Linked DNA regions of Homo sapiens: region 2 is linked to region 1. Evidence: fine-mapped expression QTL. Tissue or cell type: blood mononuclear cells. Region 1 holds a variant in brackets; the other region holds the start of a gene. All regions are shown on one strand. Distances are between the middles of the regions.

Region 1 (2,763 bases):
CATCTGTGACTTCACTCCAGCTCTCGGCAACATCTTATTAGCCACCCTAGCCAGTTTTAGCTACCTCTGAGTGATCTGTGGCAGTGTTTGCTAAAATCTAAATGAAGGCAGAAGCAAAAGCATGGCTAACAATCATTCAGGCCTTTTGAGGGCTTCTGCAAGAGCTGTCTGAATGCTGATCCTTTTCTTTCTTTCTAGCTGAGGATGAATGGCTGTTATTGCTATTAAGAGAGTAGCAGCTTTAAGCCTGGGACTGACTTCCCTTAAATGTTTCTTGATAGTTTCCATTTAGCTTGATGCTTGCGATTGAACTTGCTTCTTTGAATAAACTAGAAGTTAGGAGAGGGGAAATGAGAAGAAAAAGTGGGATCATCATTTTACAAAACACAGCTGAGTGGGAGCTCCCCTTCCACCATCATCATCATCATCATCATCATCATCATCATTATCATCATCATCATCATTGCCTGAGTACCTGCTGGGGCACTTGATCTTGCTCCAAGATCTAGGGGGAAAAAAAACAATCTTACATTTTATTTATTTTATTTTTATTTTTGAGATAAAGTCTCACTCTTGTCCCCCAGGCTGGAGTGCAATGGCATGATCTTGGCTCACTGCAACCTCCGCCTCCAGGTTCAATCGATTCTCCTGCCTCAGCCTCCCGAATAGCTGGGATTACAGGCATCTGCCACCAGCCCAGCTAATTTTTTGTGTTTTTTTTTAGTAGAGACGGGGTTTCACTATGTTGGCTAGGCTGGTCTCGAAATCCTGACCTCAGGTGATCTGCCCACCTTGGCCTCCCAAAGTGCTGGGATTACAGGCGTGAGCCACCACGCCCGGCCCAATCTTACATTTTAAAAGTGGGTTTGTCTACATATATGTAACACACCTGTGGACATTTAGTTGTTTCTTTTTACTTATTTGTATTAGTCAGACTTTTGGGTCTGAAAGTTTCTTGACAAGGGGAAACTAGCAAACTTTATACACATGGATTATCCTTAGTTTACTGGCTGCAGGTGCTGTTTACAAGTACTGGTGATGTTTGTGACTTGGCTGTTTTTAGATTTAACTGACACCATCAAGTAACTCCCATGTGCTAGGCGCTATGCTAAGTTCTTACCCATACATTAATGTGTTTGTCTTCTTTAATCTTCATGAAAACTCTGAAATGTATTAGTTA[T/C]CTATTGCCACATAACAAATTATCCCCAAACTTGGTGGCCTAAAACCACAGTATTTATTATCTCATAGTTTCCATAGGTCAGGAATCCAGGGATGGCTTAGCAGGATGATATAGCTCTGGGTCTCTCCCAAGGCTTGACTTGAAAGGATACCCACCCCGACTCACCAGTGCGGGTGCTGGCAGAATTCTATTCCTCACGAGCTGTTGGCTGGAGACCTCCCTGGGTTCCTTGCCACATAGATCTTTCTACAGAGCATCTCACTACATGGCAAGGGCCTCCATCAAGCTGAGCAGGTTCAAAAGAGAGCTAGAGAATGCCTGCAAGGTGAAAGTGACAGGCTTTTTATAACCTAATCTTGGAAGTGAAATTGTACCGCCTTTGTCATGTTTTATTTGTTAGAAGCAAGTTGACAGGTCCAGTTCATACTCAAAGGAAGGGGATCACGCAAAGGCATGAGAACCAGGAGGCTAAGATCATGAGGACCATATTAGGGGTCTACCTCCCACAGAGCTAGGTATTATCAGGCCTCTTTTATGGCTGAGAAAATTGAGGCACCATTTGAAAAAAGAGATTGATGATGCATGTATGTGTGTAGTTCATCATGTATGATGACAATTCATGTCTCTGAGAAGTATTGCGCAACACAGATTGGTACATATTTTCAGCCCTCTTGTTGATTTGACTTTCCTCATTCACTGAATCTGCCTCTATGTCCTACAGAGCCTTGCTATGCAAAGTGTGGCCTGGGGACTGCCAGCATTGGCTTCACCTGGGAGCTTGTTGGAAATGCAGAACCTAAGAGCCCACCCTAGACCTGTGGAATCAGAGTCTGCAACCCCAGGTGATACATGTACATGGTGAAGTTTGAGAAACTGCTCCACAAGTTCTCTTTAAGGTTCTCTGCTGACTTCAAGTGTTCCTGTGCTCTTCTGTCTGCTGGCCCTGTGAGGGGATTTTTTTTTTTTAGCAGTAGTGAAGAATGTGTTCTATTCCTACACTATTTTAAAACCAGAGCAGAGCCAGGCATTGTGGCTCATGCCTGTAATCCCAGCACTTTGAGAGGCCAAGGTGAAAGGATCGCTTGAGCCCAGGAGTTTGAGACCAGCCTGGACAACACAGTGAGACCTCATCTCTACAAAACATAAAAAAATTAGCCGAGTGTGGTGGTGCATGCTTCTGTCCCAACTACTTGGGAGGCTGAGGTGGGAGGACTGCTTGAGCCCAGGCAGTCAAGACTGCAGTGAGCCATGATCATACTACTGCACTCCAGCCTGGGTTGGAGCAAGACCCTATCTCAAACCAAACCAAACCAAACCAAACCAAATCCGAGAAAATAAAGCCTCTGAAATGAAAGCTTCTTATCACCTACTATTAATATCTTGTATAAATAGCAACAAGGTAATGTAATAATAATGAGGTCTCTTAATACTCTAAAATGGAGCAGGAGCCACTGGTACGGATAATCATACACAGCAGACAATTAAAAATGAAACTTGGCATTTGGCTCTAGAATGAACTGCAGCAAATCTGTCCAGAAACTGAGCCTTCCTAAATTATGTTTTATTTAGGCAACATAGATGAA
Region 2 (2,763 bases), 50 kb after region 1:
ATTTGAAAGGTATTAACACTGAAAGATTAGGTATTTTGCTTTCAATGTTTAGTATCACTACATTGTAATACATTATATTCTAAACGAATCAATTATTGAAACAAAAAATTAATGTTTCAGAAAATATCGTTTACTCTCTTAAATAACTAATGTTAGACTTAAAACTACATTATTTCCTTAAGAAATAGTGGAGCATTTGATGTATACCAAAAAGGAGAGCTTGATAAGAAGATAAGAAAGACAAATTTCATTTGATCCAAACTTATGTTCAAATCTTGGCTTAACTTTTAAAACCAATATTCCCTCTCTTAAAATATGAAGTTATACTTAGTAAGTGAAACCAACTGTCCCAAAGAACTGTCTCTTGTGGCTTAAAACATTCATTTTGGTCTTTTGCTACATTATAGAATAACTAACAAAGAAGAGAACTGTAAGATACATTGATATTGACACTAACTTGAAATAAAACATGTCCAAATTTAGGCAGCATATAAATACACAGCAATAACTTCTGCCTCAGTGATACCAAACGATCTTATAAGATGCAGAGGAAAACAGGCTGACTAATACTCACTGGTTTCCTTCATGGTTGAGGCTATGAAGCTTTCCCCTTTTATGAGAAGATGTTGGAAACACTGTAAGTACAGTAATCTTGAAGCATGCACTTGTAGGAATATGAAGCCTGGCTGCCGTGCCCTCCCTTTTCCTCCCAAAACAAAAACAAAAATGTGATGCACCTGCAAAACTATTGCCGGAACGTTGTAGATATCCACAATACAGGTTGGACTAGACAATGAAACACAGACATTCGGTGGTAGTATCATCTCAAGAACCGACAACAGTTTCAGATAATCTAGCCGAGAAGGAAGTGCCACTATTCCGAGTCAGACCCCACAAAGAGCAAAAAATAGAAGGAAGCAATACCTGATAAAGCAGCGGAGGCGATGATGCTGAAGGATCATTTGTTTAATTTTTGAAAACAAAACAAATTCAAACCTACCCAGTGTGCGTCTAAATTCTTCCGCTTTTCTGGGGCTCCCTTCATATCCAGATGCAGAGGAAGTGTTGCAGTTACCAGGAAGGAAGTTTTAACCAAGTTGATTATACGTGTGATTGCTCATTTTAAAAGTGTCAGAAATGCATTTCCTGTTTTAGCATAGAGAGGGTAGGAGTATGAGACTGAGCAATGTTTACCATGGTTTTTCTTTTCTTTTTTTTTTCTCTTTGAACTAATTTTTCAAAAATTGTGATACTGAGACAAAATGACATAAATCCAAACCAAAATTACCCATTATGAGACATAAACATATGAAATATCTTTGTAGCTAGTTCTAAGAGCCACAGTATTAGGTATCCTATTAGGAAGACTTTTACCAGTCAAATTAAACTCATTCCCCTCCTGGGAATTCAAAAGAATCCTTGTTCGCACATGCTAACTGAGGGGTGGGGGAAGAGAAACCTAGTCATCTTGAGGACTAAGTTATCAAGCTGAAAATTTTTAAAGGCATGGTCTGCAAGCTCACTTCCTTAGCTTGGTGAGAGCTTTCTCTATTTTTTCAGAGCATTTGGGGCCTAAAATATCACTGGCTCAAACTGAAAGCACTGCAGCATGTGCATGTGTGTATATAAATGTGACATACTGCAGTAAGTAACCCTTCAAATAATGGTTGAAATGCTAAAAGTATTAAAATTGAAAGATGAATAAAAAGGTATTTTGATTTTAATACTAAGTACCACTACATTGTAACACATTATATTCCAAACAAGGATCAACTATTGAAACAAAAATTAATGCTTCAGAAAATATCCTGTGTTGAGGATGGAGCCTTACTGTCAGCAATGACTGATTAATTAACTGTAGACAAAACAGAAGGAGGTTGCCTGTTATCATGGGGAAATTGGGGAGCTGAACACTGTTACAGCATCAGGCAGATTCCATCCTGGGAGGTGGCCCCTGATTCCTATGGGAGTAGAGAATGCATAGAAAAGCCATCCTGAATCATTTTTAGAGTAGCGTTGTATCTTCCAGGTGACCTCAGTTCTTTCTAGAACCTCCAAGCATCCTGAACCAGCGCCCCCTCCCTCCATCTCAGAATTCCCTATGCTAGAGTTCATCCTCCAATCGGGGTGTTGAGGGACTCCAGCTGAGCTTCAAGGGCAGCAGATAGAATGGAGTTGACCTCACAAGTCTCTTGGAGGTATGTAATTAAGAGTTCCTCTGAATTACTCTGATATTGAGATAAATGATTGATTTGACTTATTTCCTTTTACATATGCCTCTTGGGTTTTAACTTTTAAATAGCACTCTAATAGTTGACATCAGCAGGCAAATAATTTAATTCAAAGGCTGCCTCCCAAATATTTAGAGGGGTCTTATCAGCTTCTCAAAGTATATTCCTATATAGGAATACTCCCTTAGGAGGCTGGCAGCTTTAGAAGCACCAAGGCTAGCTTTCTTGGTTGGTCCTGAGGGAAGATCAACACACTGTAGCCACCAAGCCATGATGTGAGAGCTTGCCAAGCTGTGTTTTACCCAGAGTGTGTGGGAGGGTTCCTGGGGGTGGGTGGAGTGGGAGGAGGTTTGAGGGTGGGAGGGCTGACCTCAGAGGGACCATGAGCTTGGCCAGCCCTGTTCCCCAGACCATTCAATAGATCCCTTCCCTGTCCTGGCTCAGTCACTTCCAGGGGGCCAAGTCCCAATCTGGCACTGCACATACACACACACATGCCACATTATTCCAGAAACACGAGACTCAGCCTCTT

Evidence for each region. PIP is the estimated chance that this variant, and not a neighbour inherited with it, causes the effect.
Region 2: it holds the start of PIK3CG, and the variant in region 1 is fine-mapped to the expression of PIK3CG in blood mononuclear cells (TOPMed, PIP above 0.99).

The regions. Positions count from the first base shown.
Region 1 is chr7:106,913,273-106,916,035 of GRCh38, reverse strand. No RefSeq gene overlaps it. Among named protein-coding and RNA genes, the nearest start is that of PIK3CG, 49 kb to the right of the region's middle. The variant T/C (reference allele first, on the strand shown) is at 1,181.
Region 2 is chr7:106,863,588-106,866,350 of GRCh38, reverse strand. It overlaps PIK3CG (phosphatidylinositol-4,5-bisphosphate 3-kinase catalytic subunit gamma), which reads right to left and starts at 1,069. Exons shown (of 11, transcript NM_001282426.2): 1 at 925-1,069. RefSeq lists an enhancer at 898-997.